7 linked regions of the Homo sapiens genome follow. The protein of the gene in region 1 purifies or fractionates together with the protein of each later gene. This does not show direct contact. Each region holds a gene or a part of one and is shown in the gene's direction. Other genes may lie near its edges. The genes, in order: MCMBP, ORC3, CDC7, MCM9, KSR1, XPOT and PCDHGA9.

What was found.
Region 2: the proteins of MCMBP (region 1) and ORC3 purify together in Homo sapiens (co-immunoprecipitation; one study listed by IntAct). This does not show direct contact.
Region 3: the proteins of MCMBP (region 1) and CDC7 purify together in Homo sapiens (co-immunoprecipitation; 2 studies listed by IntAct). This does not show direct contact.
Region 4: the proteins of MCMBP (region 1) and MCM9 purify together in Homo sapiens (affinity purification with mass spectrometry; one study listed by BioGRID and IntAct). This does not show direct contact.
Region 5: the proteins of MCMBP (region 1) and KSR1 purify together in Homo sapiens (co-immunoprecipitation; one large-scale study listed by IntAct). This does not show direct contact.
Region 6: the proteins of MCMBP (region 1) and XPOT fractionate together in Homo sapiens (co-fractionation; one large-scale study listed by BioGRID). This does not show direct contact.
Region 7: the proteins of MCMBP (region 1) and PCDHGA9 purify together in Homo sapiens (co-immunoprecipitation; one large-scale study listed by IntAct). This does not show direct contact.

What each region holds. Positions count from the first base shown.
Region 1 is NC_000010.11:119,831,612-119,835,441, reverse strand, and holds part of MCMBP (mini-chromosome maintenance complex-binding protein), read left to right. Parts: intron 1-3,341; coding exon 3,342-3,430; intron 3,431-3,830. UniProt on the Homo sapiens protein: Associated component of the MCM complex that acts as a regulator of DNA replication.
Region 2 is NC_000006.12:87,662,893-87,666,178, forward strand, and holds part of ORC3 (origin recognition complex subunit 3), read left to right. Parts: intron 1-110; coding exon 111-252; intron 253-1,850; coding exon 1,851-1,967; intron 1,968-2,861; coding exon 2,862-2,941; intron 2,942-3,286. UniProt on the Homo sapiens protein: Component of the origin recognition complex (ORC) that binds origins of replication. DNA-binding is ATP-dependent. The specific DNA sequences that define origins of replication have not been identified yet.
Region 3 is NC_000001.11:91,513,899-91,518,276, forward strand, and holds part of CDC7 (cell division cycle 7-related protein kinase), read left to right. Parts: intron 1-49; coding exon 50-145; intron 146-920; coding exon 921-1,099; intron 1,100-1,843; coding exon of another isoform or gene 1,844-1,853; exon of another isoform or gene 1,854-1,895; coding exon 1,896-1,978; intron 1,979-4,378. UniProt on the Homo sapiens protein: Kinase involved in initiation of DNA replication. Phosphorylates critical substrates that regulate the G1/S phase transition and initiation of DNA replication, such as MCM proteins and CLASPIN.
Region 4 is NC_000006.12:118,910,507-118,914,884, reverse strand, and holds part of MCM9 (DNA helicase MCM9), read left to right. Parts: intron 1-1,464; coding exon 1,465-1,590; intron 1,591-3,115; coding exon 3,116-3,235; coding exon of another isoform or gene 3,236-3,261; exon of another isoform or gene 3,262-4,288; intron 4,289-4,378. UniProt on the Homo sapiens protein: Component of the MCM8-MCM9 complex, a complex involved in the repair of double-stranded DNA breaks (DBSs) and DNA interstrand cross-links (ICLs) by homologous recombination (HR).
Region 5 is NC_000017.11:27,605,892-27,610,269, forward strand, and holds part of KSR1 (kinase suppressor of Ras 1), read left to right. Parts: intron 1-2,022; coding exon 2,023-2,119; intron 2,120-3,304; coding exon 3,305-3,438; intron 3,439-4,175; coding exon 4,176-4,307; intron 4,308-4,378.
Region 6 is NC_000012.12:64,410,533-64,414,910, forward strand, and holds part of XPOT (exportin-T), read left to right. Parts: intron 1-4,374; coding exon 4,375-4,378. UniProt on the Homo sapiens protein: Mediates the nuclear export of aminoacylated tRNAs. In the nucleus binds to tRNA and to the GTPase Ran in its active GTP-bound form. Docking of this trimeric complex to the nuclear pore complex (NPC) is mediated through binding to nucleoporins.
Region 7 is NC_000005.10:141,400,761-141,405,874, forward strand, and holds the start of PCDHGA9 (protocadherin gamma-A9 isoform 1 precursor), read left to right. Parts: upstream 1-2,017; 5' UTR 2,018-2,192; coding exon 2,193-4,616; coding exon of another isoform or gene 4,617-4,679; exon of another isoform or gene 4,680-4,739; intron 4,740-5,114. UniProt on the Homo sapiens protein: Potential calcium-dependent cell-adhesion protein. May be involved in the establishment and maintenance of specific neuronal connections in the brain.

The sequences.
Region 1 (3,830 bases):
GTTTTCTGTCATGTCTTTTTTTATTCCTCTGTTACTCCATTATTGTCTTTTTGTTTGAAATAGGTATTTTCCAGTGTCCCATTTTAATCCCTTGAAGTTTCTTAAAGTTATTTTCTTAGTAGTTGTCTTTGGGGGATAAACTTAACATGTTAGTATAATCATCTATTAGGGATTAATGCCAGTTTGTTTAGTTATTTTTAATTTAAAAAAAATTTGTGTGGCTAATGCCATTTTAATTATATTATACAAAGACTTTGCCCCTTTATAATTCCGTTCCTTCTCCTCTCCCTTGTGCTCCTGTCATACAATTACCTCTCAGTACATTGTATGTCCATCAACACATTTAGAATTACTGCTTTTGCAGTTGTCTTTTAGAGAAAAAAGTTAGAAATGGAAAAGACTTCTGTACTATTTTTTCTATTTGCCTATGCAATCACTTTTACCAGCACCCTTTATTTCCTCATGTGGGTTCATGTTACTGTCTAGTATCTTTTCATTTCAGCCTGAAGAACTGTCTTTAGTGTTTCTTGCATGGCAGGTCTACTTGTGCAAATTCTTTTTTTTTTTTTTTTTTTTTTTTGAGACAGGGTCTCGCTGTGTCATCCAGGCTAGAGTGCAGTGTTGTGATCATGGCTCACTGCAGCCTCAACCCCCCCAGGTTCAAGCGATCCTCCCACTTCAGCCTCCTGAGTAGTTGGGACCACAGGCATGTGCCACTGTGCCCAGCTAATTCTTTGTTTTTTGGGTTTTTTTGTTTTGTTTGGGTGTGTGTGTGTGTTTGTGTGTGTGCAGATAGGGGATCTCTTTATGTTGCCCAGGCTAGTCTCGAACTCCTGGGTTCAAGTGATCCTCTCTCCTTAGCCTCCCGAAATTCTGGAATTAGAGGTGTGAGCTACCTCGCCCAGCCCTCTTTTAAGTTTTTGTTTATCTGGGAATGTCTTAATTTCTCCTTAAGGCTAGTTTTGCTGGATGTAGAATTCTTGGTTTATAGTCTTTGTCTCATCATTTCGAATATGTCCTCCCACCACTTTCTGGCCTCTGGTTTCTACTGAGAAGCCAACTAGTTTCTGATAAGGATCCTTTGTACACACTGAGTCATTTTTCTGTCACTGCTTTCAAGATTTTGTGGCTTTTGACAGTTTCGATTATGATGTGTCTATGTGTGGATCTCTGAGTTTATCCTACATGGAGTTTGTTGAGCTTCTTGGAGGTGCAGAATAATTCATATTTTGGGGAAGTTTTCAACAAGTTTGGGAAGGTTTTGGCCATGTTTCTTTCTGCCTCATTTCTCTCTGCTCTCCTTCTGACACTACCACTGTGTATCTGATGTTGCATTTAATGGTATCCCACAGGTCTTCAAGGCTCTGTTCATTTTCCCTCATTCTTCTTTTTTTGTTCTGTTTCTTAGACTAATCTCAGTGAACTTATCTTCAAATTTAGTGATTTTCTTCTGCCTGATCAAATCTGAGCACCTCTAGAGAATTTTTACTATATTTTTCAACTCCAGAATTTTTATTTCCTTCTTCTAAAAAATTATTTCTCTCTTTTTATTGATACTCTCTATTTGGTGATTCTCATATTTTCCTGAAGTTCTTTTTATGTGGTTTCCTTTATTTCTTTGAATGTTTAAAATAGCCAATTTAGAGTCTTTTTGTCTAATGTTTGAGTTTCCTCTGGGACAGTTTTCTACTGACTCCCTTATCCCCAAAGTGTGAGCCATACCTTCTGGTTTCTTTGTACTTTTTTGTTGAAAACCAGACATTTTATTTGGTCAGTGGGGTCTCACTGTATCACCCAGGCTGGAATAGTAAGTAGCACAGCCACAGCTCACTGCAGCCTTAAACTGCTGGGCTCAAGTGATCCTCTTGCCTCAGTAGCTGGGACCATAGGTGTGCACCACCATGCCCAACTAAAGTTTTGTTTTTTTGTTTTTTCTTTTCTTTTTTTTTCTTTCTTTTTTTTTTTGTAGTGATGAGGTCTTGCTTTATTGCCTAGGCTGGTCAACTCCTGGCTTCAAGTAGTCCTCCCACCTTGGCCTCCCAATGTGTTGGGATTACAGGTGTAAGCCACCACATCTAGCCACAACCAGACATTTTAAATTATATAATATGGCAACTCTGCTTTGGAAGTTACTCTGGAAATTAAACCTCCCTAGGGTTTATTGTTGTTGCTGTTTGTTACTGTTGGTAGGTTGTTTAGTAACTTTTTTGACTAATTCTATAAAGTCTGTATCTTTGTCACATGTGGGCACTGAAGTCTCTGCTCTGTTAGTTTTGTGGTTAATGATTGGAAAGAAATTTCCTTAAATGCTGGGTAGTAGTCTCCCAGTCTACGGGTGAATAATAATCATAAATAAAAATAAAAGTTGGGGCAAGCCCTCAGTTCAACACTTAGCCATGCAATTTACAAGCCTTAGCCTTCATTTCCTGCTCGCACAGAGCCTCCAGGTCATGCAGAGGTGGGAGCTATGGTCTCTGAGCATGTCTGCAGCCTTCTGAGTTCCTAGGAGTTACATACTTAAGGTTTTCAGAGCCCTCTACAGACATGTCATTTCCCAGCTAGCTTTTCCATTGAAGGGTTTGGGTTAGTCTGTCTGCCGCAGCTGTTACCCAGTGTCTCAGGTAGCTAAGGTGATTGGTAATTTCTTCCGATTGTTTTTGATAAATGCCCTGGGGAAAGAGGTGGTTCATAGTAGACAGGCTTCCAGTCAGGTTAAATAAAGACAACCTTGCAAATGGGTCCTTCCAGGGAGCCACCAGACAGGTGGTCAGATGACAGTTCTCCGGGAATGGCACTTGGAAGGAGCCCTAGCCCTGTTCTCTCTCCGGTGGCTGCCAGGCTGTTGATTTTTGAAGCTACTAATTATCGCCTGGAGGGGAAGGGGTTGGAATTTAGGAGTAGGACATGTTAAAATGCTGCCAGGCTCAACATTCTTACCAATAATCACCTGGTTTTCTTGCATAAATGCTCTCTGGATTGCTGCAAGTATGGTTTTATTTCTAGTTTTTAAAAAGCTGATTTTGATCAGTGTTAACAGTAGAGACAGTTTTCTGCGGTCCCTTCTCTGCCATTTTCACTAACATCACTCTTCCTTTGTGGAAAAGCATTGTTTCCTATGCCAGTTGCTGATTTATATGTTTGCTTGACCTTAAATGAATCTGAGTTTCATTATTTTATTTTCATCAGCAGCATTATGTATGTATATGCTTTGGTACTTTCACCCATATTGCCTCCTTTGTCTAAGAGGCTGACATGCACCTTACTACATCAGTCAAGGAACCATGTTAATTTTCTTTTCCTTACAAAAATGCACATCATTTACATTTACTCTTTTGATAAAGGCAGTTGAAGATGACTTTGTGGAAATGCGGAAGAACGACCCTCAGAGCATCACTGCTGATGATCTTCACCAGCTGCTCGTGGTGGCTCGGTAAGTGGCGCACGTCCATTATTGCTGTTTCGGTAAGCTTGTGTATATGTCTTCTGAGTTATTCAGCAGTAACTGAGGCAGAATTCTAAAAACGGAAATGAACTTTTCCTTTTAAAAACGCTGTATGAAAGGGCTCATTGAGGGGGAATCGAGTTTGGCTGGTGATCTCTTCAGTGGAACAGGCATGCTGCTTGTTCTCTAAGCTTCAAAGAGTGAGCCACTTTCCAATTCTGACTCTTCAACGATTTCTTTTTAGAAGCCTAACTTGGCTGTTGACTTGTGTGTAACTACCATACGGTCTTGTCTCCTAACGTGCTCTGTGTTTTCACAAAGTATTCCTAGGTCTTAAAAAAAATTTAAAACTTACTATCCCAGCTCTAGACTTAAATTTGTTTCTGTG
Region 2 (3,286 bases), on another chromosome or scaffold:
ATAGTGAAAATTGAAGTCCAACAGAGCTTAAAGGAAAAAATATATATATTATATATAAAGAAAATAAACCTGTGCTTATCTAAACATGGATGCCTGACTGGCTGTTTCAGAGAATACCTTCTGCCTCCTGAGACACAGCCTCTCCATGAGGTGGTGTACTTCAGTGCTGCCCATGCCCTTCGTGAGCATTTAAATGCTGCTCCGCGAATTGCCCTCCATACTGCACTCAACAATCCTTACTATTATCTCAAGGTAAGATGAACATTTAGTTTTCTGATAGTTTAGCTCAGACTCTGGGCGTCATTGTCATAAAAATATACTAAATTTGCAGTTATGTTTTAATGAGCAGAGAGTCGGCAATTCAGGGTTGCACGTCTCATATATTTTTAAAAATTCTTTAGACTGTAGAAAAAAATTTCTAACCCCATAAAGATAGCAATTAGTAGTCAACTGTTGCTGCCAGTTTTTGACCATGTGTAATCTTTGCCCTTCACATGCTAAAGTCAGATCATAGGCACAAAGACTTGAGAGTATAATGTTACCACTCTTGTGAAAATAAAAGAAATGTTTCCTGTAAACATAACAGCAGACAGGGATTAAACAATATGGCCTAATAAATTACTGAAAGACCGAAATGGTTGTTTCTAGTGGGAAAGAGAAATACTTTGGGACTTCATCTTGGATTTTAAAACAAAGAAAGGTCTATTCTGAGAGCATCTGCAGAGCTGAGTGTAGAGGATAACCAGCAGTCTGCCACTAAAACTCCTGGGGCAGCACACTTCAGCTGCCCTTGCTAAAGTCCAGACACAGTTATCAACTCCTGGAAGCTCTTTAAACAATAGTTCAAGACAGCTCACAATTTTAGAAACTAGCTTTCTTATGACCGGGCAAAATGATCACTTTAAACATTCAATAAGCTGTATATACATGAAAGAGTGGTAAGTTAAATACCCAGAAATCTTGCCACAATAAATACTTAAGAAACAACTCCGTAAGACCTATGAAGAGCATTCCAGTGTACTGGCTTCTCATTGCAAAACGGCACACAAACATGCAGAGTATTACAAGAATATTGAGTAGGACGATATAAGTCAATGGTTTTCAGTGATGGTGAAAACCACTGAATAATTTCATACTTAACCAAAAAATCAGTTAATTTTAATATATAAACCATAAATTAAAACTTACAAAATCTGTCTTCTTCTTGGCTGGTGGGTCACAGAAGAGAACTGGTATGATTTCAGTTGTCTTTGGGTGGGATATATTATAATATACCCCTGATATTATAATATCAGAGCAGGGTGTGTATGTAAGACTTTGTGTTTCTCAGTAAAAGCCATGGATTTCAAATAGGTTGAAGAAACACTGATGGTTTCTATAGGGCTTAAGGTCTGCAGTGTTGACAACGTAGTCTTTTCTTTAAAAGAAATTTATACCCCTGGTAAGTGGTATTAGTATTTACTAATACAGTATAGTAATTGTTAGAATTCAGCTAATTATAAGTGTTGGAAGTACCATTTTATTAAGTATTCCTAAAGATTTCCATAAACTTTTTACATTAAGTGCATTCAGGTCTGAGAAATTAGTAATTTATGGATTGAAATGAAAAATATGCTTATCTTCTAATCCTGGGAATATTCTTCTAGTGACTAAGAACTAGAGGGGTTATGACCAAGACATAAACCTAAACAAGAACTAGCTAACTATTGAATAGACTCACTCACTAAATAAGGGAAACCAAGATTCCATTTACTGGTTTACTCAGTTTAGGTTGGGGGCTTCATTAATGTCTGATTTTATTCCTAATAATTTATAAAAGTTAGTCATCTTAGTTTACTGTTAATTGTTAGAATGAAGCACTGAAAAGCGAAGAAGGCTGCATTCCGAATATCGCCCCAGACATCTGCATAGCATACAAACTGCACCTAGAGTGTAGCAGGCTCATCAACCTCGTGGACTGGTCAGAGGTAGGTTGTAGGGAAAAGAACAAGCTAGATATTTTTCTAACCATCCATGATGACTTTCTCAGAATAGTTTTATACTTTTAGTGCTTTGGAATTTATCTTGTGTTTAATGCCTTGTCTTTTATTTGGAAAGCATAAATCATTTCAAACTTTAAAAGTTCCTTAGGAAGTGGTAGTTCAACAGTCCCCACTCCCAATCCCCTGCCCTCTGATCCTGAATTCCTTAACCAAGCCAATTCTGTGTTCATGCTAGGTCAAAATAAGTATGTGATCTAACCCAATAGTTAGCATTAAGCAAAAACTAAACAATTTAGGTCAGTTCTGTTATTTCACAAAATAAAGTATATTATTAACTAGCATTTCTCTTCTTGCTTAAAAGAAAAAAAATTGAAGTAACTACACAACAGATTTAGCAATCAGGAAGTATAAGGAATACTTGGCAAGGCAATAAACAACTGTTGTTATTCTTTAAAATAAACAACTATTCTTTCTGTCTTCAGAATAGTATTACAAAGATCTTAACTCTATTAAAGGCCTTACAGATGTCTTGTCACCATTAAAAAATATCCATAATTGGCTGCTTCCAAGAAAAATAGATATTTTCCTGGAGTAAGATTAGTAGAGGAAACAGGGCTTTCTTGTTCTTTTACCTTTGACTAGCTTCGTTTCTTTTCTCTGCATACTCTTAGTTCTCTGAAACAAGATTATTCAGGAACCATTACTTTATCTTTTAATATATAAGTGGTTTAAAGTGATCATCAGTGTAGTTTTGACAATCTTAAATTTGATATAATGAAGAATATGTGCCAGCTATCAACAGCCATTAAAAGAAGTATAGTAAAAGATGTTTGGCAACTGTAGACATTTTTATTTTCTTCTGTCTTGTCTATTCAAAAGGCTTTTGCAACAGTTGTGACAGCTGCTGAAAAAATGGATGCAAATTCTGCAACCTCAGAAGAAATGAATGAAATTATCCAGTATCCTTTTAAAACCATTTCTACAATGTCCAACTACACATAAAATATAAGTTTATAATTTCTCCAGGTCTACACTAGATATTTATAAAGGCGTACTCCAAACAACCGTATTACTTGTTAATATTAACCATATGGTGCTAGAATAACTGAAATTTCTGAATCTTTATTTTGAATTTAATCCAAAATGAGACCAAACCTAAAACTTTTGGTATCAAATTTATATCAAGATTATATTTTAAAATTTACCAAAAATGAAACTGCCATTATTGAATTCTCTTTTTTTGGTTTTTGTTTTTTTTGTTTGTTTGTTTGTTTTTGAGACGGAGTCTCGTCTATCGCCCAAGC
Region 3 (4,378 bases), on another chromosome or scaffold:
AGTGTTACAGATATAATCCTTATTTTCCTTGTTTTTGTTGGTATTGTAGGAGGGATCTGTAGGCCTTTCTGTCCAGCGCTCTGTTTTTGGAGAAAGAAATTTCAATATACACAGCTCCATTTCACATGAGAGCCCTGCAGTGAAAGTAAGTAATGTAGCTTAATAGCATAATGGTCAGTCAGTCATACACTGAAGAGAATTTAGGTAATAACTAGATTAACATTTATTATCAGAAATTTTTTTAAACTAGAGTTTGGCTTTGGCAGAAGGTATTACTGCTTTAAGCATTTAGTCAAAACTTGTTTTCTCCAGTTTTTTTCTGAACTTTTCTGGTGGAATTTTTTCTCATTTTTGGTTAGCTATTACTGTCTTTCTCTAGAGGAACATTTAGAACATTAAGGGCTTTCTGTCATTGCTAGAGTGTGAGCTCCATACAGTTAGCTAACTATTCTGACACATAGTTGATAGTGTAAAGATGTTTGTAAAGTTAACAAAATCATCATCAATGTAGATGATTTCAGATTGACTTATGATATCTTGTGACAGCTAGACAGCATGAGCAACAAATTAAAACTGTGATTTTAGCCAACGTACTTGTGCAGTTTACAGTTCTGAAATGGAGTTAGACACTAGAACATAACTGTTTTATACTTCTGTAATATATCAGGAAAAGTTCTAATAAAGTATAACTCAAATATTGGCCAAGCTAGGACTAATTAGTAAATTTTAATATAAGGTGACTTTACAGAAAAACCCAAGAAGACCTTAAACATTTTAATAGACAACAGTTTATTTACAGTCCAATAGCCATTCAGCAGTTTTTAAAGTTATGCTTCCGCTATTGCTTTTTGCCATACTAGCATTTTAGGACATCATGTTTAATATCATGAAAATAGAAAAATGAGACTTTTCTTTTACAGCTCATGAAGCAGTCAAAGACTGTGGATGTACTGTCTAGAAAGTTAGCAACAAAAAAGAAGGCTATTTCTACAAAAGTTATGAATAGTGCTGTGATGAGGAAAACTGCCAGTTCTTGCCCAGCTAGCCTGACCTGTGACTGCTATGCAACAGATAAAGTTTGTAGTATTTGCCTTTCAAGGTAATGTGTTTTGATGGTGTTATAAAATCACCAGCATGCTGCCATTAGAAATTGCATTGACTTGGGTGGATAATTTTGTGAGTGCAAGGGATCAGTTCAGATCAGTGAACTGCAATGGGCCTTGATGCAGAGCAGTAGTATGTTGAAGAGCAAATGATAACAGTTTTCATATATTATTTATTTAATATGGATATACTCTGGAAAACACATTTGCTCTTATATGCAAATAAGTGGGACGGGGTGGCTTTTAGAAGCTTAGAATCACACATTTTGATTGCTGATGTAGTCTTTTCTGTTTTCTCTTTTTATTCCCGCTTATGTGGAGTAACCAGAACCAAATAGTAGAGCTCCTCTTTTACTCCCACCTCCAACTCTTTGACTCATAAATTTCTTCCTTTCCTTCAAGGCTTGGCTTTCATAAAGCCTTTCTTGATTAACTCAAATATATAAGTGTATCTGTGATCAATTACTCCAAACAAATGAATTTTTATACCTGTGAATTGCTATTGGGTTCTATTTTTTCTATTATGGCTCTTATTATCCACTACTGCTTTTTATTCTTGGAGGTTATTTTAAACCTTTCTGGAGTAAGTCCGGGGAACTAGTAGAGGGGGTAAAAAACAGAAGAAGAAAAATCTAGGATTTTTATCACACTAGATTATCATTTACTTTATAGTAACACTTATTATATAGGTATCAAGGCAAAATTTACTGTGAACTAAATTGATGAATGTTATTTTTTAGACTTACATAGTTCAACTTTAACATAACTAGAGAAATCTTATTTCATCATAAGGCGTCAGCAGGTTGCCCCTAGGGCAGGTACACCAGGATTCAGAGCACCAGAGGTCTTGACAAAGTGCCCCAATCAAACTACAGGTATGTTGTACTGGAAATACAGAACCTAGTTAAAATGGATTGTTCCAGACGTATTTTATTTTATGATCTTTGTCTATTTATAACTAATATTTGAGTTCTTCTGCTTTTAATTATGTAAGCAGTTCTTGCAGTGTGGCATTCCTATTTTTGAGCTAATGCTATTCTTTATGAAAGTTTTTAATCCTAATGTTGCCTCTCTTTTTTTGTTTAAACAGTTTATTCCATAGATTACATTTTGCGTATTTATTTACAAGATGATCTTACCATCTTGTAAATAAATACGCAAAATGTAATCTGTGGAATTTTGCTGACATCACCTTTGTGGGGGAAAAAATTATGTTTAATAGTTTTTGCCAGCCAAAGACTTAAAGCATTTTATTTGCTTGCTTAATACCTCAAAAGTTTCCTGTGATGTAGATATATTTGTGTTTGATTAAAATTACTTTTGTTATTATATAAACAATATAATAGCAGTTAGAAGGTTTTGAAAAAGAAAAATGTCTTCCGTAATCTAAAAACTTACCATGGAGCTGGAATCCAGGAAACATCTTGAATGAATAGATGAATCCTGCTATTCACTTGGATTATGGGCTTTGAAGAAATGTATTCATTCATTGAATGTCTGTTCTTGCTTGCTAATGATAACAAATAAATAAATGAGACCATCTGTTCACACTCTAGTCAGGACACCATCAAATAATTATAAAATAACCTGTTGAGTATGGTAATAAAACTTATTCAGGGTATTTAAGGAGTATCTAACTATCCTAACCCAAAGAGATTATGAAAGGCAATTCATGAAAGAAATGACCTCTTAGAATGTAAATTGGGCTGAGAAGTTAGCATAGAGGCATGAGCCAAGGAACTCAAGAAACAGCATACAGGAAACTAAAAAAGTTTCATTTTGGCCAGACGCGGTGGCTCATGCCTGTAATCCCAGCACTTTCGGAGGCTGAGATGGGCGGATCACCTGAGATCAGGAGTTTGAAACCAGCCTGACCAACATGGTGAAACCCCATCTCTACTAAAAATACAAAAATCAGCTGGGTGTGGTGGTGCGCACCTGTAATCCCAGCTACTCAGGAGGCTGAGGCAAGAGAATCACTTGAACGCAGGAGGCGGAAGTTGCAGTGAGCCAAGATCGCACCATTGCCCTCCAACCTGGGCGACAGCAAGACTTCATCTCAAAAAAAAAAGTCCAATTTTGCTAGAATATTAAGATGCAAGTTGAGGAATGGTGAGAGATAAACCTGGAATGAGGTAGACAAGGTCAGACCACAGTTGTTACAGTTTGGACTATATACTGTAGATATTGGAAAGTTAAGTGAAAAAAGTGACAATGGTATATCCTAGATGGATCATTCTGGCAGGCGTGCAAACAGATTAGCTTTTGGAGAGTGGTGGCATGAATTTGTCCGGGTGAGAGGATGAAAATGTGAATGAGGGTATTGGTAATAGGAATGAAAAGAAAAGTGAAGGGTTAGAAAGGCAGAGCTTGGTGGATAATTGGATGTAGAATTAGGGTGTGGTATGGTGAGGGAAAAAGGCATTCAGGATGTTTACCAGATTCCTAGCTTGGGAGACTTGGATGTGTACCAGTAACCAAGGTGGAGAGTAAAGGAGAAGTAACTGGTTTATAGGGGAAGGTAAGGTTAGTTTGGGGTATAATTGGTTTGAGGTATTTGTGGGACATCCAAATAGAGATTTCCAGCAGAATCAAAGTTAAGTCTGATGCTCAGCGAAGGAGCTGGGCTAGAAATACAGATGAATGTCATCATTATATAAATGACAGTTGAAGCCATGAAGTGGATGGACCAATCAGGGAGAGTATACAGAGGGAGAAGTTAAAACTCTGAGGAATATCCGTCAGCACTTAAGGCTTGGAGAAAACATTGAAGGAGCAGGCAGAGGTACCAAAGGAGCTAAGAAAGGCAAGTAGGGCCGGGCACAGTGGCTCATGCCTATAATACCAGCACTTTGGGAGGCCAAGGCAGGCAGATCACTAGGTCAGGAGTTCGAGATCAGCCTGGCCAATATGGCGAAATCCCGTCTCTACTAAAAAGTACAAAAAATTAGCAGGGCATGGTGGCACACACCTGTAGTTCCAGCTACTGGGGAGGCTGAGGCAGGAGAATTGAACCCGGGAGGCAGAGGTTACAGTGAGCCAAGATCGCACCATTGCACTCCAGCCTGAGCAACAGAGTGAGACTCAGTCTCAAAAAAAAAAAAAAAAAAAAAAAGGTGATACAGTAGCCCAAGGAACAGAGAGCAGATAACCTGGTGATACTAGGAAGTCAACAATTAAGAGAGATGTCAACTTTAAGAAAAAAAAAAAAGAGCTTTTTAACATCAAGTTGAGCTAGTCGTAATCTTTAACTACCAGAATTCAGAAGATTAAAG
Region 4 (4,378 bases), on another chromosome or scaffold:
TAAGGTCAGACAGTTGGTAATTAATAGCACTGGGATTTGAATCCAAACATGACACCAGAGCCTGTCCTCTTACCACAGGGATATGCTTCCCATCAGCATGTTACTCAGTAAAATTGGCTCTAAGTTTTGGCTTATGTAATTCCCAGATCAATTTGCCTACTCTTGAACCTGTTTGTTGGGGCTGTTTCTTCTTTCCTTCCACATGTAATCACTAGATTCTGGTCACAATTTACCTACCTGCTGTCAAGTCTTATCTGCTTGGATTCCTGACCTTTTCTCCAGGCTTTCTAACTCCAAACAGGGAGGGATTCCTTCAGCAAGTAATGAACTTCCTGGATTTACTAAATCTTCTGGTTCCTTTTTTACTAAAAGATTTTCTTTCTTCACCATTTCTGCCATCGCAGGCCACATCATCATAGATTAGTTGCCACTGAATCAATGTTGATTCATTACAAAAAGTAGCCTTTGTGTATAGGGCCATAAGTCGTGGAAAGGCTCAGGAATGGCTTGTTGGAATTCCATAGGTTGGTTAGGCCAATGACTGAATGAAATACCTGCTTTATTCATGGAAGAGATAGGCAGATTCTCAGATTTGGTGCGTTATTTCTGAAAACAGAACCCCAAACAGTGATGTTCTTTTATTTAAAGCACATGATCAGAAGAATTCGAGATCTCATACTTACACTGCTAGGGTTGTGGTGTGCAGTGATCTTCTTAATGCCTTGATGCCCCTGTAACTTTGTTCCAGAGAAAACAGAATTTACCAGACTGCTCAGAGCAAATGCTGAATTGACTTGGAGGGTGGATTTTTTACTTATTTCTTATACCTTTGGAGCAGCTTCATGAGCTCCAGCTACCTCTGTATTTAAAGATTACTGACTTGTATGATCTGACTCATTATTTCTGAGATTGAATACCTTCCTTTTATTTAGGCAGTGGAGTAATTTTACTGAAATTGTCACATAGAAAGTACATACGGTGGCTCATACCACTCATGAGTGCTGGGTGGTAATCCCAGCACTTTGGGAGGCTGATATGAAAGGATTGCTTGAGCCCAGGAGTGAGACCAGCCTGGGCAACATAGTGAGACCACGTTGCTCCAAAAAAGAAAAAAAACATTAGCTGGGCGTGGTGCTGCACACCTGCTGTCCCAACTACTCAGGAGGCTGAGGCAGAAGGATTGCTTGAGCCCAGGAGTTTGAGGCTGCAATGAGCTATGATCACGCCACTGCACTCCAGCCTAGGTGACAGAGTGAGACCCTGTCTCAAAAAAACAGGACATTTTGAACCAAAACAAAGTTATTTCCTCCTTTAATCCTGTTGGTCATTTGGAATTGGACCTCCTGATCACTTCACATAGTAGAGTATATTTAAATGAGGATGGTCAGATAGGAAAGGAAGGGAAATTTCAGTTGGGGTTTCTTGAAAATTATTGCTGATTTCTGATCTTTCTGCTTTTCCTAGGAAGGAATGTAATATTGGCTAGCTTGTGCCCTCAAGTGTTTGGAATGTATCTAGTAAAGCTTGCTGTGGCCATGGTGCTGGCTGGTGGGATTCAAAGGACTGATGCTACAGGAACACGGGTCAGAGGTTAGTACCTATTTAGAAATTTTGAGTAATATTGACACATGGATGGAAGCTAGAACTTTTTCTTTCCCAAATAAAAACTGCTCGTTGGGTTTTATTTTCCAATTGTAATCTTATAAAACTGACAGTTGTCTGAATATCTTATACTTAGTCTAGCATCTGTATATCAGAAGCTACTTTCTAGAGTTCCAGAAAGACTGAAAGAAGTTACATTTTTCTATGGCATATACTTTTGCTATAGCCTATAAGGATGCCACAAAATAAAATCTTTGTTTCTATTACTGTGTTTTTTGTTGGATCCCCGGTCTGTTTTCAAAAGGAAAAAGATTAGAAATAGTGTATTTTAATGTCTCCAGTCAGCGTCTCTCCATCTGTGGCTGTCACTGTGTTTCTCTTAGACTGCTGCTTTCAGTCATCTGCCTGCTGATTCTCCTTCTGCTGGTAGATAGCAAATGTGCCATCTGCCATGGGGTGCTGCTGCAGGTCACACCTTCAAGAAAAGATTACTCTTAAGTGTATAATTATGTCCAGATGGCAGAAAGCTCTTTTGCAGCTAACACACTTAACCAGAGTCTGGCATACGGGTTATTACGGCCCTGTACGTGGGCCATAATAACCAAAAATTAAACCAAAAGACTAAAAGGGCATTGTTATAAATCAGGCTGTTAGTAGGGACTCGAAAACCATATAGTACAGTATAGAATAGTAAGTATAAGGCGTCCTTATATGTTTTGATCACCTACTGTTTTGCAAGGCACTCTGCCAAATGTTGAGCTTAAATAGGGGTTTCCTATTAATGTATTTAGGAAACACTTGAGAATTGCTGAAGAAACTTGGTCAGTGAAATCATATGTACCATAGGATATGCACGTTATTTATGTTACATTTGCAAAATGAGTACTTATTTTAAGATACATATTTCACTAAGTTACTAAAATTTTCATAAATGAAAAGGTCTTCACTTAACTGTTAGAATCATAATTTGATATTTGTAAAGTACTTGTAAAATCCCTAATACTTCTAAGTGCTTAAATAAAAATAGAATAAAATACTTATATGACTTGTATGCAAGGATTTAATCATAGTAGTTTGATATTTAAAAATAGAGTAAATCAGAAACTTTATAAGCCAAAAATTTTTTGTTTGTTTTTGTAGACATGGAGTCTTGCCCAGGCTGGTCTCACATTTCCGGGCTCAAGTGACCCTCCTGCCTTGGCCTCCCAAATGCTGGGATTACAAGTGTGAGCCACCGCACCTGGCCCCAGATATTTTTTAAAATGTTAAACATAGGCCTGAACATCTGGAAATAGCACATAATTTATTAATAGAATTTAGATTCTATGTCACATTGAGTAATCAATTAAGGACTGTTTATGACAGTTAACTTTCTGAAGATTTTCTAGTTAAATCCTTTCTCAAACGACCCTATGTAAAAGTACACAGTAAAAACACTATGTAATATTTTGTTGGCATTCCAAATGGACCCTTTTATAGAAATTTAAAACTTCATGTATTTGCTTTTTCCTAGGAGAATCTCATCTTTTATTGGTTGGGGATCCTGGCACAGGGAAATCTCAGTTCCTCAAATATGCAGCAAAGATTACACCAAGATCTGTGCTGACCACAGGAATTGGATCTACTAGTGCAGGTATTGTATGTGACAATTTCAAGTAATTTAACATTACTTCAGAAGTTAACACAATGGTTTTTTCTAATGAAAAACTACCTATAATAGGATAAATTTCAAGCTAATTTTTGAGTTACCACTAAAAATGGAAGGAAATATGCAATGTTATTTTGGTAGCTCTAAGAAAATATCTTGCAAGCTCCACCTTCACTTTGCATCTTAGTTTTGAACAATCCTATTCAATTTTCTCATTCTCTAGTGATTACCTTCATACTTTTATGCAGGAAAAAGTCCGTATCATCTGGCATTTTATCAAGACTCAGCAACTGGAATGTTAAACTAAAGAGGGGGATATTTCACTTTACCAAGTAGATAGATGGTATAGAGCTTAAGGCATTTTCATGCTCATAAATCTGATAGGCAACAGTAGCTCCTACTGAAATTTCTTAGGTAGGGAATGTTTATTAATATTTGGAAAATATACTTCCATCATTGCAATGTGGAGCTTCATTCATAAGTTGTAATGATTCTTTAGCAAGTACACTTAAAAGCCTTTGCAGGTAGAATGTCAAGATTTGATTATAAATAAAGTGACCCAGGGAATTTAGAAAAAAATTATTTTAAAAAATATGTTTGATGCTATTTTGTATTTTTACAGTTTTGATTGGGTAATGTTTCTGTTCTTCTGAAAACAGACCCTTGGCTTCACACATTTTAAAAATGTTTGCTACTTGTTAAGGGAGTCAGATTAACTTCCATTGGGCTAATGAATGCTCAAATTTCTAATGAGAAACTAACACTTTAAAATTTATCATACAACAGAAAATGGCCAATTAATGGTCCTGTATAAGTGGAAAACTGTTAAGGAGGTCTCAGGTTTTGAAATATAACTCAACAGTATATTAACCATTGACAAGAATGGATTTTTGGAATTGAGAAGGGTAGACAAACTTCAGGATACTAGGCAAGAATATATAAAGAATATTTCCCATGCGTTTTAAATCCGTATGACCCAGTGTTCTAGAGTTCTGTATAAAATGATACCAACAACAAATAAAGATGCTTCCCAAGTAATTATGTGGAATGTTTCCTAAGTAATTATGTAGAGTGTCAAGAAATGAGTCCAAGCCATCTAAGTGGATGACTGGTAATTTCAGAGTATTT
Region 5 (4,378 bases), on another chromosome or scaffold:
CCTAGAGGGTGTGGAAGTTCTAATAGAGGCATAAAGAAGAAAACCAAAAATGGGGTATAACTTCCTAATCACATAACCGCATTGACACTAAAAAATAAATAAATATGGGCTGGTGCAGTGGCCCATGTCTGTAATCCCAACACTTTGGGAGGCCAAGGTGGAAGGATTGCTTGAGCCCAGGAGCTTGAGACCAGCCTGGGCAACATACTGAGACGCTGTCTCTACAAAAAAATTAGCTGGGCCTGGTGGCAGGTGCCTGTGCCTGTGGTCTCAGCTACTTGGGAGGCTGAGGCAGGAGGATCGCTTGAGCCCAGGAGGTCAAGGCTGCAGCGAGCCAAGATCATGCCACTGCACTCCAGCCTGGGTGACAGAGTGAGACCTTTCTAAGTTTACAGAAGATCAAATGTCCATAAAAGGTACAGAGTGAAAGCCAGTCTTCTCCCACTGCAACTGAGCGCTTCTCCCCAAAGTCAGAGACACTATAAACAGTTAACATTCCTTCTGTTAAAAGGAAGACATTTGCATATACTCACGTTTTTAAACTGTTTATTCCTTTTTGTAAAAATACAAAGGAGAGATCATGCTGGCTCACACCTTGCCTCCTGCACCCGATTGTGGGTCTGAGGTCTACTCTCTTCTAACACCTGCACAGTATCCCCATCACGTAGGCTGAACCCAGTGGTGTGCTGGTAAATGTGTAACAACCAGTTTTGGGGCAGTATGGAGGGAAGCCCTAATTTATAACATCCATCACTTCCTGTGGTGTAAATACTCTCACCATGGTCAATTTCAGACTACCAATGTTATCTCCTGGAGTGGAGTAGAGTTGGGAAGAGTTGTATAATCAAGAGCTGATCACTGGTGGTCCCGTAATTTATTTACAGAACAAGACTCCATCTCAAAAAAAAAAAAAAAGTAGTTAATGAAAAACAAAACAGGTAATTAATTAATGATAAACTAGACAGGGTCTCGCTCTGTCACCCAGGCTGGAGTGCAGTGGCGTGTTCTTGGCTCACTGCAACCTCTGCCTCCCAGGCTCAAGCAATTTTCGTGCCTCAGCCTCCCAAGTAGCTGGGATTACAGCCGTGTGCCACCACGCCTCGCTAATTTTTATATTTTCAGTAAAGATGAGGTTTCACCGTGTTGGCCAGGCTGGTCTCAAACTCTTGACCTGAGGTGATCCGCCCACCTCAGCCTCCCAAAGTGCTGAGATTACAGGCGTGAGCCACTGTGGCCTGCCTGAAACAGGAAAATATTCATTAACAAAAAAATCTTACTTTGTTTAGAATACGCTGAAGAAAAGTGGGACACAGATAAGGAAATCACCAACCAATATTCTCTACCCCTTGCCTGGTTTTCAAAGGCTCTGAGACTCCAAGAATATTTTCCTAAAAACATAGTCCCTTCCTAAGATAGCTCCCTTGGACCCACATTCTCTCTGGGTCCCTCCTCACCCGGGGTTTTAGGAGTTGATGCAGGTGGCGACCCCAGAACTGAAGCTCCTTTTCCAGTAGTCACCTTGACGCCCCTAACATCTACCCCACCCCCTTTCCCTCCTTGCACACTCCTTTATTGTAATAAAAACCCTGTGATCAAGAAAAAATGAAAACTATAATGAGATTCTTGACAGTGAGCCCCAGAGCCTTGATGTTGCCTGTTGATGCCCTTAAATTAGCCAAGTTCTTCCCCATCAGAGTGGTCCTGCCTTGAACCCACCAAGCATGGCTACTCTGAGTTCCTGAGAGCTTTGATGCACTGTTTCCTGTTGTAGGATGGGCAGGCACTGGCTCTCAGGGAATGGGGGTTTGTGTGCGTGTACGTGTGTGGTGTCATGTGTTTCTGCACGTTCAGGCCAGGCCCCAGCAGGACTGGGCTGGGTTAAAGAAGATTTGGCTCACAGTCGAGGGGCTGGAGAGAGTCCTTGCAGGCAGACGGGCACAGTTCTCCCCATGGGCTCCACCAGGGTTGGGGTCAGGCCGCACCAGCCCCAGACTTGTGCTTGACCCCCACCACCCTCGACAGCTTCTGCAAGGGGCGGACGTTGCACTCGTTTGTGAGGGACCCCAAGACGTCTCTGGACATCAACAAGACGAGGCAAATCGCTCAGGAGATCATCAAGGTGAGGGGGTGCCCAGCTGCTGGGGGTGGGTTTCTGGCCGGTTCCAGGGCTCTCGGCTGTTCCTCTCGCCCTGTTACTCCCTGTTAGGGTGGTTTGGGCAGCTTTGCCTCTCCTTCTAGCTCAGGCTCCTCAAGGGTGGGACCCCATCTCTTCCTCCCTGTCTCTGTCTCATTCATTCAGAGCTGGGAGCTGATTGTCCACATGATTAGGCTTGATGGAATTGACTTGGTTGGGAAGGAACTTGGCAGGCTTTAGAGGCCAGTTTCAATCCTGGTCACACCCTTTGTGTGACCTTGGGTAGGTTTAGCCTCTCTAAGCCTCAGTTTTCTCCCCTGTAAAATGGGGATCTTCATATATCCTCCCTCTCTGGATTGGTGTGAGGTTAAAAACGCGATAATCCATGCTGTGGGGTACACAGGAGCCCTGGGTCTGGTGTTTGAAGACAGCTTGACCTTGGATGAGATCATGCCTATGTCAGGTCACCCACGCTCCATGCACCTGACTCATCAGTGTTAGTTCAAATAGAGCATTGGTTAGAAATCACCCACTGCCACCTCTTCGCTTGATAGGTGAGGAAACCAGTCTTCAGAGAAGTTGAGCACTGTGTCCAAGGCCACAGAGTGAGTGAGAATCTGAGCTGAGATGGAGTTCAAACCCCAGATTTCTTAGTCCAGGGCTCCTTCTACTACAGCTCAGACATTAGGAGCACTCAAAGTTGGGGACCCCGCTGTGGGAATGCCTCTCTGTTCCCCCACCTTGAGCCCTTGTCCTGCCTGAGAGCACAGACCAGCTGTGCATATCCTGACAGAAAACCCCAGCTCATTTAGGCCCTTTATGACTGTACACTGATAAATCTCACTGTCCCTGACCCCCCGGCTCCCTGCCCATCACCCTGTTCACACCTCCTACCTTAGCCAAGGTTAACATGGTTGTTTAGAAGCATGGTAACATTAAAAGAGCATAGACCGGTCTGGGATCAGATCTCAGCTCTGCTTCTTCACTGCTGTGTGGCTTGGAGCAAGTGACTTTCCCTCTCTGAACCTCGATTTCTTCTTCTGTAAAATGGGGACAATATACTGCATGGAATTGTGAAGATCAAATATGGGGATTTAGGTAAATCATCCAGCCCAGGGTGGCACCTCCGTCATCGTTGCACATCTTCACTCCTCCTGATGTGTCCTCCAGGGCATGGGATATCTTCATGCCAAGGGCATCGTACACAAAGATCTCAAATCTAAGAACGTCTTCTATGACAACGGCAAGGTGGTCATCACAGACTTCGGGCTGTTTGGGATCTCAGGCGTGGTCCGAGAGGGACGGTGAGTTGGTCTTGAGTGTCTGGGTGGGTTGTGGGTGCTGGATGGGGAAGAGCAGGGCTGAGGTCTGGGCACTTTCACTGTTTGTTGCTGAGCTGCAGCCCTCCCTGCAGGGAAGCCCAGGTCGCTTTGGTCCTGCCCTCGTAGTTCTGGTTCAGAATCAGATTTGGGTCGCGTTTGGATTCTCAGGCCGACTTCCACGGAAACCAGGTCCCCACACTCACATTTGCCCTGGCTGTTCACCCGCTTGGCCAAGGAACCAGGTCATTTCCCCACGATGAGGAAGAGTGTCAAATTTTATTTCCCCAAATCTTGAAGGGATTGGCATAGGGAGAAAGGCCCCTCCCCTCACATCTAGGGGAACCCAAAAGGGAGCATGGCAGCAAGGCTGCAAGGCCAGCCCCAGCCAAGTTTGAGATCCACAGGCAGATCAGGGTTCCTGGTTAGAGAGGCGCCTCATTCTCCAGCAGAGGGAGCTGGGCACCTTCACCAGCAGCTCCCTGTCAATATTTATCCATTCTTGCCCTGCTTTTCTAGAAACAACCGGTCATGACTCCTTTGTAGAATTCCTCAAAAGCACCGGTGCCTTTCCCAAGTGCAGGGTCAGTGTTCTGGGTCTGGGTGTGTTTTCTAAGCTGTGTGTGGGTGTTCTGCCGGCCCTGGGGCAGACCTGTGCCAGGCAGGCCTCTTTGCTGCCTGCTGAAAGGCCTGTGTCCTTGTCCCGGCTTCCTGGTCTCCAGGCGTGAGAACCAGCTAAAGCTGTCCCACGACTGGCTGTGCTATCTGGCCCCTGAGATTGTACGCGAGATGACCCCCGGGAAGGACGAGGATCAGCTGCCATTCTCCAAAGCTGCTGATGTCTATGCATTTGGGTGAGTAGGCCCCTGGTGCCCTGAGGCCAAGTGTGGCCAAAACAGAGGGCCCTGGTGGCCATTGGGGGCAG
Region 6 (4,378 bases), on another chromosome or scaffold:
GCTGGTCTCGAACTCCTGAGCTCAAGCGATCTGCCCACCTCAGTCTCCTAAAATGCTAGGATTATAGGCATGAGTCACCCTGCCCGGCCACATTAGTGATATTTAACTTTCTTGTTATTTGGTCTAGGCAGACATAAATAAGCAGTTATGATAGGTTATGTCTTAAGTAAAATGGTTACATGACAAGAATCCATTATAAAGTGCTGGGATAGTTGGATAAATGTAAACAATTAAATATAATGTAGCCTACAACTATAATCATGACTATAGCTGAATGATAGAAAAATATAAAGAATGAGCCTATAATTAATTTTTTTTAAAGACGTGGGCATTTGGAACTATAGGGTAAGTGGAAAGGAAAGAGGCATTTTCTTTTTACTTTTCATAGCAAAGAATACTTTTTATAAATGAGCTAAATGAGGTTAACAATCTCACTAAAAATTATAGCAGTTTTTATTCTTATTTTAAGAAAAAAATCTTTTAAAGCAGTAAAAAACAATCCCAACTAGTTTCTAATACAGTACCATGTGCATGTCTCTGCTACTAAATAAGTAACGAGCCCTTCAGATACAGGAAAATAATAGGAATTGAGATTTAAGTATCTGGCTAATTACAAGATACCTATCAAACAAGTTAGGACATCAAAAGACATTTAAAATCCATGTCTTCTGTGTGTAAACAAATCTTTCTTGTCATAGGGTTTTATGCTACCTACCTTCAAACATAGTTGAAGTATCATAGATCTTTACCTTTAGTCTAGCTTGGTATTGCATGCTTGTAATTAAAAGCCTTTGACTGTATGTTTAGTTATTAAATGGCCTTTACTGTTATTTTTATGTGCCTCTTGAAATCTTTCATTTCTTAAGTTCCAGCATCCAATTTTTGGATGAAAGAGGCATTTTCTTTGCCTCTTAAGTTCCAGCATCCAATTTTTTTAAATGTGCCATGATTTCTTTTTCAGAAAATTAAAACCAATACATTATTAGTGGTTTTAATACAGAAGCTCTGCTTTTTGTCAGTAAAAATGGGTTCTGTCACATACGTGTTTTAAGCATCCAGGTCCAGGCATAATTCAGTATCCATTTAGCCAATCTGAATAACAATTTATTAGGATGAAAGGGAAGAAATCTTAAAGTGAATTCTGAAAGCCCTTTTGTTGCAGTTCGGGAGTAGTGGAAACTTAATTCAGTTTGGTGGTGAGAAGAATGACTGTCTGCCAACCCCAATTGCTCAGTTGTCTATCTGTAATTCTCTGTTTTTTACATGGGCAATAAAAGTTGAACTGACTCTTGTCACATAGAGTCAGTCAACCATTAGAAAAAAGGTATGGGGTAGAACTAGGTGGTGAAAGCTAGGACTTGTTTGTCAGTGTTGTAGAATTTTGTTTTTTTAATTGTTAGTAATGCATAGATTCAGAATACAAAGGCTTTGTTTAAAAACTAAAAACTTCCACGTTATCTCTCCTCTCCTTCCTCTCACCCCTGCCCCGCCCCCCGCCCTTTTTTTTTTGAGACAGAGTCTCACTCTGTTGCCCAGCCTGGAGTGGAATGGCACCATCTTGGCTCACAGCAACCTCCAACTCCCGGGTTCAAGAGATTCTCCTGCCTCAGCTGGGATTAGAGTAGCTAGGATTAGAAGCACACACCACCACGCCTAGCTAATTTCTGTATGTTTGGTGGAGACGGGGTTTCACCATGTTGGTCAGGCTGGTCTCAAACTCTTGACCTTGTGATCTCCCTGCCTCAGCCTCCCAAAGTGCTGGGATTACAGGCATGACTCACCGCGCCCAGCCTCCTCCTTTTTAAAAAATAAAACACTCGTCTTTGGCTTAAAACCTGTTATTATTTAAAGAAAATGGTATGTCATGACATTTCTAGCAGCTGAAACCACCTCTCCCCTCTTTTGTAAGTGAAATATTAGGTGGTAATGCAACATACATGATTAACTTCTACCTTGTCCTCTGGCCTCTGAGATATTCCTAAAGAATACCCTATGTTTCATGGACTGCTGTTAGAAACAACTAAGCTAGTACTATCTTTTATAGCTGCCTGTGTTCTTATAGTCTTAACTTCTAAAGAGAGACATTATTTACTCTGGGCTGTTTTCCAATACCAACAACCAACTCTCTTGATTTCTGTGGACACCAACTGGGTGTCCTACAAATCAATTCAATTCTGACACTACCAGGATTAGCATCACATCCCACAAGTTATGGGCTCGGTCTTACAAACCGCCCCCACTTAAGACACTAATTGAGTCCAGAACCTCTCATATTTCTGATGATGGAGTAGCCTACAGAACTTAGAAAAACAGTTGACTTTCTTGTGCTGATGAAGGATCCACCTCATGAGCAGCCACATGGAAGCGATGCATAGGGCAAAGTATAGGGGAAGGGGCACAGAGCTCTTGTGCCCTCTCTAGGAACACCACCCTCTCTAGGAACACCACCCTCTCAGCATCTCGATGTGTTTGCCAACCTGGAAGTTCAAGAGTTTTTATAGAGCTGAATCTTGAGTCCCTTCTCCCCTTCCCAGAGGTTGGTGGTTAGGGTAAAAGTTTCAACACTCTAATCAGTTGATCTTTCTGGTAACCAGCTGTATCCTGAGGCTGTCTAGTGTTCCCACACCAAGTTACCTCATTAACATAAACTCTGTTGACCCCGAAGTCTCTAGTGATCCTTCCACCTTAGCCTCCCAAGTAGTTGGGACTGTAGGTGCACGTCACCACTTCTGGCTAATTTTTAAATTTTTTGTAGAGACAGGGTCCCACTATGTTGCCCAGGCTAGCCTTGAACTGCTGGCCTCAAGTGATCTTCCAGCCTCAAGTGATCTTCCCACCTTGACCCCCCAGAGTGTTGGGATTATAGGTGTGAACTGCTGTGCCTGGCCCAAAGGACTCATTATAAATAACAAAAGACGGTCCTGTCGCTCAGGAAATTTTCCAAGAGTTTTAAGGGCTCTGAGCCAGCAACTGGCTGCAAAGCCCAAATGTATTTTTTCGTTATACCATATATTTAATATTATATTTGGTGATCTTCACCTAATCATCTTCATTTACCTGGTCTTCTGTCAGTGGGAGCAGCCATTGAGACCATGTATGAAAACCCATTCCCTCATTCATACAGTTACATAGTATAGGAAACTATCACCTAAATATAAATACAGTGGCTTTGATCTGTAACCCAAAGAAAAAAATAACTTTACATCTCGATGACCCAGTGTGTGTGTATATATTTATAGGTACATATGCACATAAATAACTAAAACAAGTTACAGAAAGTAATATTCTTGCTAGGGTATAGTACAGAATATCTAATATTCTCTATTTCATTTTTAAAAATTATTGTTCAGGACCCATAAACTGATTTCATCACTAGTGGGAGACACCACCGTTTTAAAAATATTTACCAATTGAAATTAGGTTTCTCTAAGGCTAATGTTTCTTTTACCTCATGTCAGCTTTTGTTTCATACATAATTGCTGTCAAATCATCTAGCAGTGCTTCCAGTTGATGTGCAATTTTCTTGTCTATTGGAGATACTTGTCACAAGATGTTCACTACTATTTGTCCATTGCCATGTGTGAAACCTGCATCTGGTGCAACATGCTGATGGGAAGAGTGCCTGAAGTAACTCCCATTTTCCCAACAGTTTGGTAGAGAGCGTATGGACTTGGTGCTGCATCCATTCTAGAGTACTCTTGCTCCTTGTTGGCACTGTTACTTGTGATTACAAGGCCCTGAATTCATAAACTTAGAGATAAAAAACTTCCTCGAGCTTTGACCTTTTCAGTTACTTAATATTTTTCAAAATTCATATCATGCACTTGTACTCCAATTTTAATCTCTTTAGGGAACTTACATGATATAATTAAAGACTTGAAATACTCTCCTGTGTAACAGTAGATCAGATAAGGTACACAGTATGTTTTATCTTTTATAATCACCGCTTTAATAGCAGATGTGCTATTAAATAGGAAAAGTGCCCTTCACGTGCCATTTTATAATTGCATATTATAAAATGATCACACCCTTAACTCATCCTCTGCAATTTCTCAGTAGTATGGCACTTGACAAAGCACTTGCTCTCATTCTTCATAATAACCCCATGAAGGCTGCGGGGCATTTTTGTGTTGTTGCTGCTGTAAGAAAACAGGTTTGATTATCTAACTGATGGAATTTATATTTATTTAACCTATTTTTAGGAATGACCCCAAGTTGCATATATTCGGAAGCCTGCATTTAATGTTTTAACTGTTTTTCTATTAAGTTTACTGATTTGTTATAGGTTTGCAACTCTCAGAATATTTTGTTTATATTAGCAGGGCATTGAGATTGTTTATTCTAAATGCATTTTTTTGTTTTGCAATCTTATAGGCCC
Region 7 (5,114 bases), on another chromosome or scaffold:
AAAAACATTTGGTGCGTTTTTTTGTCCTCTTTCTCAAAGCTAATGAATTTTACCTATTCGTTGTCTCATTCTTTAACATGTTTATATTTTATTGTATGTAGATAAACCATTAAATTTAATGTATGTAATCATTTAATTCATCTTTTAAAGCAAAGAAACTGCTAGTAGATGTCTTTCTTCACTGATTTCACTGGTAGTTTTCATCTCTTTCTTATGTTCCTCATATATGCTTTCTTATTCCTACCTAATGGATTTATGATTTTTTGAATCTCCTAAAATTTTATTAAAAATACTATATGTTGGCTGGGTGCAGTGGCTCATGCCTGTAATCCCAGCACTTTGGGAGGCCGAGGCGGTTGGATCACATGGTCAGGAGTTCAAGACCAGCCTGGGCAATATGGTGAAAACCCGTCTCTACTAAAAATACAAAAATTAGCTGGGTGTGGTGGCGGGCGCCTGTAATCCCAGCTACTCAGGAGGCTAAGACAGGAGAATTGCTTGAACCTGGCAGGTGGAGGTTGCGGTGAGCCGAGATCACTCCATTGCATTCCAGCCTGGGCAACAAGAGCAAAACTCCATCTCAAAAAAAAGGAAGGAGAAGGAGAGGAAGAAGAAGAAAAATACTACATGTTATGTGTATGAGAGAGAAAGAGAGAGACTGATTCACTGAACTTAGAAGGTCCAAATCATCCAAATAATTTTCTAAGTTTATCCAGGTTTTCTTGGATGCAAAATCCTTTTCCACCTCTATATAATTACCAGAAGAAACTTACAAAAAAAAGGAAATGCTATTGCCTGAATTTCTCTTGCTCGGAATCCTGACATATTCTTGAAGAAGGGGAAAAAGACACCGGATTTGTCTTATCGTTTGGAGCTTTAAATATAAATGACTGGATGTTTTCTCAACATCCTTGTAGGATGGAAGGTGAATACAGGATTATTCCATTTTTAAGACAAAAACTACTAGTCTTGTGTACATACAAAGCTCCCATTACATGGTATAAGTCTTTTGCTTGGTTTCCCTTAGTATGTGATTCAGTAAATGGGTTCCTTACAAAGTGCTGAGATTTCTTATAATACCACTTACTTTTAACCTTTCAGTAGTTTTCTTTGTTGTATATTTTGTGTTCTTTTTCCCAAATTATTATATAAGTTTAAGTGATGCTTAGAATAATGTTTAAGACCACTTTAAAATTGCATAATTTATTGATGAAGGATTAAAATAGAAACTTGCTTTTCAGTGTATATGCATTTGAATCATTGAAACACAGTCTGTGCATGCATTACATATTCACATTAAAAAACTAAGCATTTTTGAAATAGCAGAAAAGTTTAAGCAATTACAAAAATGTGAAAATTTCCAACTTTAATCCTGTTAATATTTAGCAATATTAGGCGAGAACATCTGTAACTATTGCTGAATTAATATTACTTTTATAATACAAAAATTTAAAATAAACGTTTTTCCAGGAATTTTATCATCAAAATAAACCCCAGAAAATAATTTCAAAGTGGATAATCTATCCTTATATATGTATTAATACAATTATATATTTTACATTTACAAATATATAGGTATAAAAATTAAAAATGAATGTACTTCCAAACAAGATTGCACATAAAAATTACTTCAGAAAATTGTTAAGATACACAGAAAAAATTGAAGCATCATAAAAAGGAAATTATAATAGTTTACATATCTAGAAATAGAGTGCAAAGTTCTACCAAGAATAAGAATAAATTAATATTAAGCAATGGTTTGTGATTTTATAATACACTTACAGAAATTTTATTCCACTTTATTTACAACTCAGATATCTAAAAAATAGATTGCTTTTGAAATACAAATGCAAGAAACAATTGGAGAAATCTAAAATCATAATTAGAAGAGAGTAGTGTTTTCTTTATCAGCCATCTGATATAATGTTACACATCAGTGGGTGTAGTAACGGCTTAGGACTCTGAGCGCCGCTGTTGATCAACTCTAAGCGAAAATCAGGACTCCATCCGGATTTCCAGTTCTGCGGCTACACAAAACCCGGCAGATACCACAAACCTGCTCCCAGGCTGCAGCAAAACTCAGCCTCTTTCTTCTAAGGAAAAGATCACCATACTTTGCAGGGTGGAAGAAAGAACCTGATGAAGCAGCGCGCACAGAGATCCTTTTGAGAAAATTCCAAAGCGAGGCAGCAATGGCAGCTCCAACCAAATGCCAGCTCCGCGGAAGATTAGTCCTGCTATGCTCGCTCCTGGGGATGCTATGGGAGGCCAGGGCCAGTCAGATTCGCTACTCAGTGCCTGAAGAGACAGAAAAGGGCTATATTGTGGGCAACATCTCCAAGGACCTGGCTCTGGAGCCCCGGGAGCTGGCGGAGCGCCGAGTCCGCATCGTCTCTAGAGGTAGGACGCAGCTTTTCTCTCTGAACCCGCGCAGCGGCACCTTGGTCACCGCGGGTAGGATAGACCGGGAGGAGCTCTGTGCTCAGAGCCCGCGGTGTCTGGTGAACTTTAAAGTCCTGGTTGAAGACAGAGTGAAACTGTACGGAATAGAAATAGAAGTAACTGATATTAACGACAGCGCCCCAAAGTTCCAGGCCGAAAGTCTGGAAGTAAAAATTAACGAAATCGCGGTTCCTGGAGCACGTTATCCACTTCCAGAAGCTATTGATCCGGATGTTGGCGTGAACTCCCTCCAGAGCTACCAGCTCAGCCCCAATCACCACTTCTCCCTGAACGTGCAGACTGGAGACAATGGAGCCATAAACCCAGAGCTGGTGCTGGAGCGCGCCCTGGACAGGGAGGAGGCAACTGCCCACCACCTGGTCCTCACGGCCTCGGATGGCGGCGAGCCGCGTCGCTCCAGCACAGTGCGCATCCATGTGACAGTGTTGGATACAAATGATAATGCCCCGGTTTTTGCTCAACGGATTTACCGAGTTAAAGTCCTTGAGAACGTGCCCCCAGGCACCTGGCTGCTTACTGCAACAGCCAGCGACCTGGATGAGGGAATCAACGGAAAAGTGGCATACAAATTCTGGAAAATTAATGAAAAACAATCTCTGCTATTCCAGCTTAATGAAAATACTGGGGAAATATCAACAGCAAAAAGTCTAGATTATGAAGAATGTTCATTTTATGAAATGGAAATACAAGCTGAAGATGGTGGGGGATTGAAAGGGTGGACAAAAGTGCTCATTTCGGTGGAAGATGTAAATGACAATAGACCTGAAGTGACCATTACATCTCTGTTTAGCCCAGTGAGAGAAGACGCACCTCAGGGAACAGTAATTCTTCTTTTCAATGCTCATGACCGAGACTCCGGGAAGAATGGTCAAGTTGTCTGTTCTATCCAGGAGAATCTATCTTTTACATTAGAAAATTCAGAAGAAGATTATTACAGATTGTTGACGGCCCAAATTCTTGACCGAGAAAAAGCCTCAGAATATAATATCACGGTGACTGCAACAGACAGAGGAACTCCGCCCCTGTCCACAGAAATTCACATCACCCTGCAAGTGACTGACATCAATGATAATCCACCTGCTTTCTCTCAAGCCTCCTACTCAGTCTACCTCCCGGAAAACAACGCCAGAGGTACTTCCATCTTCTCCGTGATTGCCTATGACCCTGATAGCAATGAGAATTCTAGAGTTATTTACTCCTTGGCAGAGGATACCATCCAAGGGTCTCCTCTCTCCACCTATGTCTCTATTAACTCAGACACTGGTGTGCTGTATGCTCTGTGCTCCTTTGACTATGAGCAGTTTAGAGATTTGCAAATGCAGGTGACGGCAAGTGACAGTGGAAGCCCACCACTTAGCAGCAATGTGTCATTGAGACTGTTTGTTTTGGACCAGAATGACAATGCCCCAGAAATCCTGTACCCTGCCCTCCCCACTGATGGTTCTACTGGTGTGGAGCTGGCACCCCGCTCTGCAGAGCCTGGCTACCTGGTGACCAAGGTGGTGGCAGTGGACAGAGACTCAGGCCAGAATGCTTGGCTCTCCTACCGCCTATTCAAGGCCAGTGAGCCAGGGCTCTTCTCGGTGGGGCTGCACACAGGTGAAGTGCGCACAGCTCGGGCCCTGCTAGATAGAGATGCGCTCAAACAGAGCCTTGTGGTGGCTGTACAGGACCATGGCCAGCCCCCTCTCTCGGCCACTGTCACGCTCACAGTAGCCATAGCTGACAGCATCCCAGACATCCTGGCTGACCTGGGCAGTCTTCAGATCCCTGCAGACCTGGAGGCCTCAGACCTTACCCTCTACCTCGTTGTGGCTGTGGCAGTCGTCTCCTGTGTCTTCCTCACCTTCGTTATCACGCTGCTGGCCCTCAGGCTGAGGCACTGGCACTCCTCGCATCTGCTGCGGGCTACCAGTGATGGGTTGGCTGGTGTGCCCACCTCACACTTTGTGGGTGTAGATGGGGTTCGAGCTTTCCTACAGACCTATTCTCAGGAGTTCTCCCTCACCGCTGACTCAAGGAAGAGTCACCTGATCTTCCCCCAGCCCAACTATGCAGACACACTCATCAGCCAGCAGAGCTGTGAGAAAAATGAGCCTTTGTGCGTCTCTGTTGATTCCAAGTTTCCTATAGAAGACACCCCTTTGGTTCCGGTGAGTTCATTTTTTTTCTTTCTTTCTTTTCTTTTTTTGTTTTTTGTTTTGTTTTGTTTTTGAGACAGAGTCTTACTCTGTTACCCAGGCTGGAATGCAGTGGTGTGATCTCGGCTCATTGCAACCTCCGCCTCCCAAATTCAAGCGATTCTCCTGCCTCAGCCTCCCAAGTAGAGTAGCTGGGACTAGAGTAGAGTAGCTGGGACTACAGGCCTCCCAAGTAGAATAACTGGGACTACAGGCACGTGCCACCACGCCCGGCTAATTTTTTGTGTGTTTTTAGTAGAGACGGGGTGTCACCATGTTGGCCAGGCTGGTCTTGAATTCCTAACCTCAAGTGATCCACCCACCTCAGCCTCCCAAAGCACTGGGATTACAGGCGTGAGCCACTGCGCCTGGCCCTTAACTTTCTATTATAGTTAGCTTTCTCTTTAACTGTCTGTACTTAAGGTAGTATAAGTTGATATCAGTGTGTTTCTCATCACTTTTCACTGGGCC